Homo sapiens: one gene and its partner. The protein of the gene in region 1 interacts with the protein of each later gene in a pairwise test. Each region holds a gene or a part of one and is shown on either strand. Other genes may lie near its edges.

Region 1 (3,813 bases):
TTGGCAGGGAAAAAGGCTGCACGTTTGAGGTGATTACAGAGGGGAATGAGCAGTGCTTTCACCTTGCTTAGGCTTGTCATGATTTGGGGACTGGCAAGGATGATACACACTTGCCCTCACTTAGACTATAGTTCACTGATGAGAGCATTGTTCTGAGCCAGTCTTAAGTCATATTGGAGGTATCTAAATGTCCATGCAGCTTGGAATATGTGGTTTTTCCTTGGTGGATTATCTGTTTTCTGTTTCAGAATCAGGGATAGATGGAGTGGCCAAGCTAGTTTACAAGGCTTAGTCTTTATGTTGATGTTTTTGAACAGCATGATTAGTGAGAAATTTCTGGTATACCTTGATAGGGTCATCCCTTACGTTTTTAAGGTTTCTCTTAAACCAATAGTAGGGGTCCTTTTTAGCTGTCTACCTCTGAGATACATGTTTATATAGATACATCTTGAATATATGTTGTTTTTGGTTCACTGTCAGCTGGTTTGGTGCTTTGCATGGGATTAGATGTACTTTGATGTTCTACATGTGAAACAAGTCTTTGAGAGATGTCAGCGTATTTTTATGGACCTTTACTGATCATAGAGCATAGCCAATTTAACTGAGCCATTTATGAATTCAATAAATAACTTTAACCTGTTTCATTTGTTTTTTAGTTACTGAGCCTTTGTGTGTTCTTAGGAAGTCACCTGCAGTTTTTCATATGGCTTAAACTGGGATTTGGAGATTCTATCTCACATAATATTGAAAGATCATGTTATTTAAAGCCTATCTAGGTTTTTCCTGCTATTTTGCAGGATATTTGTTCTTAAATTATTATGTAGTATGAAAGTACTATGATTTTTATAATCATTTGTAGCCTCTGTTTATTCAACTATTTAAGTGATGGAGCCAGTATATAAATCTGGCCAATTCAACCTCAAAGCTGAGTTTGTGATTATTGACAATATGTTGGTGCCCAGGAGATACTTGTTTGTTTAACATATACATTTCTTTGTTGGCTTGATATTCCTAGGTTATCCGGTGTTGGCTCCTGCTGCTTACTATGACCAAACTGGTGCCCTTGTAGTGAATGCAGGCGCGAGAAATGGTCTTGGAGCTCCTGTTCGACTTGTAGCTCCTGCCCCAGTCATCATTAGTTCCTCAGCTGCACAAGCAGGTGAGCGCACATCTGAGTGGACTCCTGCCAGAGATCTAAAAGTGGCGACTGATAGTGAGATTCTTAAAGTATGTTGAAATAAACTTTTGGCAATTCTCAGTATATCGGTTCTACCCTGTAATGTTTCAAAAAGAGATCAGAAGCAATAAGTGACCTTAGTGGATTCTCCTTTTTGTTGGGGGGTTGGTGGGTTGGGGGAGGGGTGGCATGTGCCAGCTGGTTAGAAGCAAGGTCTGAAGGTCTGGCTCCACTGAGAACATAGAAGTTGCATTACTCACACAAAATGGCTTTGTTGGCAGAAATCCAAGTCATTATTTTAAGATAATTTTAGAGGAGGGGTTGTTTTTTGCCACAGGGGCAGGAGTGGAGGACGTGGGAAAGAGTAGTGAGAAGTGACAAAATAATACATTTGGTTGGGAGGAGTAATAGTTTTTTACTTTAAGTGTTTATATTTATTTATTTTTTAATTAAGAACAATAACAGGAACATCTAGAAGACAGCAGTGTGCTAAAATAGGAATTTGAAGGATGTGTATGTGCATTACATGGTTCTAGAAGAAACCCTCAACATAGATATTTATGGAATTTAAGATTTTAGGAAGTAGTTGTATTTAATGGATACATTTGATGTTTATACCCCTTTTAATCTGTATACTCTTAAAAGCAACCAGCATAGTGAACTTGTTCTAGTGGTATTTTGAGTTCAAATTGAAAGTAGAAACAGAAAATAGAAGCTTCATATGAAGGGATCAAAGACAGATTTGTATGGTTTGTGTCTGTTTTGAAAAGATAGGCAGCATTAAAAGATTTTTTGAAAAAAGATAAAAATGTAGTTTGGAAATGTGGCCAGTCCCTTTCATAGCCAAACGGTTTGCTTTCTTCTTCATAGCTGTTGCAGCAGCCGCAGCTTCAGCAAATGGAGCAGCTGGTGGTCTTGCTGGAACAACAAATGGACCATTTCGCCCTTTAGGAACACAGCAGCCTCAGCCCCAGCCCCAGCAGCAGCCCAATAACAACCTGGCATCCAGTTCTTTCTACGGCAACAACTCTCTGAACAGCAATTCACAGAGCAGCTCCCTCTTCTCCCAGGGCTCTGCCCAGCCTGCCAACACATCCTTGGGATTCGGAAGTAGCAGTTCTCTCGGCGCCACCCTGGGATCCGCCCTTGGAGGGTTTGGAACAGCAGGTAGAAATTAGACTGATATGCTCTTAAGACTGAATTTTAATTATTTTTACAATCCTTCTGGAATACTGGCAATGCATGGAACCACAGGCAGATCTGGACCAAGCCTTGTGGGAATCCAGCCATCCCACATAATCTGTGAGATGATAGACTATTGAAATCAAGTTATACAGATGGGACCTATTTCAATCCATGCTCATGTGGCTACTTACTTAATCAGTTTCTTTCAGGGATTTGAAATCTAGGGAAGATTTTTGCTGTATTTGGGAAAAATATTGAGGGAACTGTAGAAATTGATATCAAAAACTGAGGGAGGAGGACTTACTAAAGATAGCAGAGCTGAAATACTCCACAATTGAGACTGAGCCGAGTTCTTGGCCTGCAGGCCTTAAAGAGTTACAAGTTTTCTTCAGTCTTTTGAGTAGAATTTAAGGTAGACATGTGGAAAATTAGGAGGAAGGATATTAGACCAAGATATTTTTAATGTTTTGATGAAAAAAGCAGGAGTGTAGTATGGTGAATAATGGGATAATTGCAGAGATTATAAAAAACAAACAAACAAAAGTGATCCCTAAATAGAAGGGCATGTGTGAAAGAAAGTATCTTAATTGGAATTGAGGGCAGCATTAACTCTCGATTGAACCCACTGAGAAAACAGGCTTTCATATAGAAGTCTTGTGTAGTGGGGCAGTACCCCATTTACAAATCTTTTTTCTGTATCCCATTTTTCTACTTGAACCTTTTCAATTGATGAAAGGCATTCTTCTAGTCCATTTTCTTCCACCTTTTCCATAGTTCATGTGGCCGTCAGAGCTTTTTAACCCTCCCTTATCCTATAATATACGACACCATAGGAAGGTAAATTTGGCATATGTTTGATGGTCATGTTAACCTGAGCCATGTCCTCTTTATTACTTATCTGCCCCTAGTACTGCTACATTAACAGTTAGGCTGTCTCTGCTGACAAATTTGCGGTGGTAAGGAGTCTGGATCAAAGTGTTAGGAACAGGTCACTGGGCTTGTTCTTCGAAGAACAGGCCTGTTCTTATCTGCATTGTTTTAATTCCATTTTAGTTGCAAACTCCAACACTGGCAGTGGCTCCCGCCGTGACTCCCTGACTGGCAGCAGTGACCTTTATAAGAGGACATCGAGCAGCTTGACCCCCATTGGACACAGTTTTTATAACGGCCTTAGCTTTTCCTCCTCTCCTGGACCCGTGGGCATGCCTCTCCCTAGTCAGGGACCAGGACATTCACAGACACCACCTCCTTCCCTCTCTTCACATGGATCCTCTTCAAGCTTAAACCTGGGTAAGAACCATTACTCTAACACCACCTTGAACTCTAGAACTCTCTTGCCACCGATGACATTACAAGAACTTTGCATAAGCAAAGGACAGTCCCTTTATACTAGAAGTGTCCTGGGTGTTCTGTGCCTTCCGTAAATACCTCATGTTATTCAGGCTGTACCT
Region 2 (3,813 bases), on another chromosome or scaffold:
GACCTCAGGCGATCCTCTCGCCTCAGTCTCACAAAGTGCTGGGATCACAGGCATGAGCCACTGCACCCGGCCTTCCTCTTTTCTTTTTCTACCTGTCGCCCCCACAGCTGGGCAGCTCCCAGCCCTGTCCGCCCCCATCCCCTCCACCCTTTCCCAGGCCTGCCCAGCTCAGCCTCGTCCTCTGCTTCCAGCCCTGCCCCACCTTCATTCGTTCCTACCTGGTCCATCAGCCTGGACTTCAGCCTCACTCCTCCAGTCTGTCCCCTGCTTGGCTTAGGAGGGATCTTTCTACGCTTACACTCACCCCTTCCCTGCTCTCAGCTCTCTCATGGCTCCCTAGTACCCACCAGAAAAAGCCCTTGCCCTTTCTGCCTGGTGTTGGAGGCCCAGTGTGGTCTGGCCTGCACTGACCTGTGCAATGCCAGCTCCCATCTCGTCCCTCAGCCTTGCCCCTTTATGATCTGACCTCCCTGGATACCCTCTTTTGGAAACCAACAATGCTGCTGCTTTAGACTTACGTGAAGCCACAATTAAGTGCTCTGAGCTATCACTCAAGGCTCAGCCTTTGTTTGATCTTGAACAAGGGTGAGTCTGATGCCTCCTGTGAGTTTTTTTTTTTTTTTTTTTTTTTTTGAGACAGTCTTGCTCTCGTTGCCCAGGCTTATTGCCAGTGCAGTTGTGCGATCTCAGCTCACCGCAACCTCTGCCTCCCGGGTTCAAGCGATTCTCCTGCCTCAGCCTCCCGAGTCGCTGTGATTACAGGCACGCACCACCACACCCGGCTAATTTTGTATTTTTAGTAGAGACAGGGTTTCTCCATGTTGGTCAGGCTGGTCTCGAACTCCCGACCTCAGGTGATCCACTTGCCTTGGCCTCCCAAAGTGGTGGGATTACAGGTGTGAGCCACCATGCCCAGCCCTTTTTTTTTTTTTTTTTTTTTTTGAGACGGAGTTTCGCTCTTGTTGTCCAGGCTGGGGTACAATTGTGCGATCTCGGCTCACCGCAACCTCCGCCTCCCAGGTTCAAGGGATTCTCCTGCCTCAGCCTCCCGAGTGGCTGGGATTACAGGCATGCACCACCATGCCCGGCTAATTTTGTATTTCTTAGTAGAGACGGGGTTTCTCCATGTTGGTCAGGCTGGTCTCCAATTCCCGACCTCAGGTGATCTGCCTGCCTCGGCCTCCCAAAGTGCTGGGATTGCAGGCCACAGCACTTTATGGGCTACAATGCCTGGCTTTTTTTTTTTTTTTTTTTTTTTTTGGAGACGAGTTTCACTCTGTCACCCAGGCTGTGCAATGGCACAATCTTGGCTCACTGCAACCTCCGCCTCCTGGGTTCAAGCCGTCCTACCTCAGCCTTCCGAGTAGCTGGGATTACAGGCGTGTGCCACCACGCCTGGATAATTTTTGTATTTTTAGTAGAGACAGGGTTTTGCCACGCTGGCCAGGCTGGTATCAAACTCCTGACCTTAGGTGATCTGCCTCGGCCTCCCAAAGTGCTGGGATGACAGGCGTGAGCCACTGTGCCTGGCCTTCTCTGAGCTTCTTGCAGTCCCTGTGATTCTGCCACAAGAGCACGTGGCACTGGCGCTTGCCTGTCAATCTTCCCTAGCGGACTTGGACCTCCCAAAAGCAGGGATTTCTCTTCCGGTCCCCAGTGTTGAGAACAGTGTCTGCCACACAGGTGGTCTCAGAGGAAATTGGGATAACGAGCCTGCGTCCTGTCTTTTCTGCAGAGCGGGCAGTACCTGGGCGTCTGCTCAAAACCAGGGCGATGCGGGAGATGTACCGGAGCTACGTGGAGATGTTGGTGAGCACAGCACTTGACCCAGACATGATCCAGGCCCTGGAGGACACGCATGGTGAGCTGAGGCCTGGGGAGGAGGGGGGGGGGCTGACTCGGTCTGAGGGAGCAGGTGCTGAGGGCTTGGACGTGATGTGAGAGAGGAGAGGTTTGGGGTCGGGACTCCTGAGTCTGAGGGAAGAGGAGCTGAGGCCTGGACCTGGGTCTGAGAGAGGAGGGGCTGGGGCCTGGAGTCCTGGGTCTGAGGGAGGAGGTCCCTGGGTCCTAGGGAGAAGAGGCTGGGGGCCTGGACTCCTGGGTCTGAGGGAGAAGAGGCTGGGGGCCTGGACTCCTGGGTCTGAGGGAGGAAGGGCTGGGGGCCTGGACTCCTGGGTCTGAGGGAGGAGGGGCTGGGGGCCTGGACTCCTGGGTTTGAGGGAGGAGGCGCTGGGGGCCTAGACTCCTGGTTCTGAGGGAGGAGAGGCTGGACCTGGACTCCCAGGTCTGAGGAAGGAGGGACTGGACTCCCGGGTCTGAGGAAGGAGGGACTGGGGCCTGGACTCCTGGGTCTGAGGGAGGAGGGACTGGGGCCTGGACTCCTGGGTCTGAGGGAGGAGGGGCTGGGGTCTGGACTCCTGGGTCTGAGGGAGGAGGGGCTGGGGCCTGGACTCCTGGGTCTGAGGGAGGAGGGACTGGGGCCTGGACTCCTGGGTCTGAGGGAGGAGGGGCTGGGGGTCGAGGGCCTGGGGGTCTGGACTCCTGGGTCTGAGGGAGGAGGGGCTGGGGCCTGGACTCCTGGGTCTGAGGGAGGAGGGGCTGGGGGTCTGGACTCTTGGGTCAGAGAGAGGAGGGGCTGGGGGTCTGGACTCCTGGGTCTGAGGGAGGAGCGGCTGGGGGTCTGGACTCCTGGGTCTGAGGGAGGAGCGGCTGGGGGTCTGGACTCCTGGGTCTGAGGGAGGAGGGAGCTGGGGCCTGGACTCCTGGGTCCGAAGGAGGAGGGGGCTGGGGCCTGTACTTTTGTCTCTGAGTGGGAAGGGGATTTGGGGACCCAGACTCCATGACCCCACCTTGGCCCCAGTGCTTTGTGAGGCTGTGGCCTTCCTGATACCATGTCCTCGTCCATCAGACGAGCTGTACCTGCCCCCCATGCGGAAGATAGACGGCCTGCTGAATGAGCACAAGAAGAAAGTCCTGAAGCGGCTGTCGCTAAGCCCAGCCCTGCAGGTGCCTGGGGGTCTGGGCAGGGGGTGTCTGGGGCCCAGGGTCCACATGGAGAAGACATGTACGTGTCGGCCGCTGTTGGCGGGGGTGATCCTTGGAAGGAGATCGTCCTTCTGGGCTCAGATGGGAGAAAAGTTGAGGGCAGGACTGTCAGGAGATCTCTGGGTTCTCAACAGCCATGAAGCCCATGTGGGGAGGAGCTGTGGGCCTTGGGGCAGCAGAGGGGTGGTTGTGAAAGGCTGGGCTGTTGTTTCGGAGAACAAGTGTGCAGCCAAACATAGACTAGGCCTGCACCCAAAGCGGGCACTGGACCGATGGCTTCTTTGTGAGTCCAATGCAGGCTATTAGGATCCCAGGCTTCAGTGTTAAGTCATCTGTATGATTTCCCTTCTGGGATATTCTGGGATGGAATATCAGGGCTCTGAAATCCAGTGTTAAACTGGCTCTGAGGATTCTGGTTGGGATGTTAGTGTGGCACTGAGAATTCCGGGATAGAATGTTAGGGTAACTGAGACTTCTGGAATCGAATGTTATTCTGGCTTTGAGAATTCTGGAAGACTTGCAGTGATTCTGAGAATTCTGGGATGGATTCTAGGCTGGTACTAAGAATTCTGGGATAGGCTATTAGGCTGGTGCTGAGATGGCTGGTGGGAAGTTAGTCTTAGAAAATACGCAGGAAGGCCGGGCACAGTGGCTCACGCCTGTGATCCTAGCACTTTGGGAAGCCAAGGCCGGTAGATGGCCTGAGGTCAAGAGTTCGAGACCACCCTGGCTCTCTCAAAATAAAAAAAAGTGAAACCCCGTCTCTAC

What was found.
Region 2: the proteins of PUM1 (region 1) and PRR12 interact in a two-hybrid assay, tested with the Homo sapiens proteins (one large-scale study listed by BioGRID and IntAct).

What each region holds. Positions count from the first base shown.
Region 1 is NC_000001.11:30,964,513-30,968,325, reverse strand, and holds part of PUM1 (pumilio homolog 1), read left to right. Parts: intron 1-88; exon of another isoform or gene 89-163; intron 164-1,015; coding exon 1,016-1,159; intron 1,160-2,047; coding exon 2,048-2,344; intron 2,345-3,415; coding exon 3,416-3,652; intron 3,653-3,813. UniProt on the Homo sapiens protein: Sequence-specific RNA-binding protein that acts as a post-transcriptional repressor by binding the 3'-UTR of mRNA targets.
Region 2 is NC_000019.10:49,618,617-49,622,429, forward strand, and holds part of PRR12 (proline-rich protein 12), read left to right. Parts: intron 1-1,735; coding exon 1,736-1,861; intron 1,862-2,908; coding exon 2,909-3,006; intron 3,007-3,813.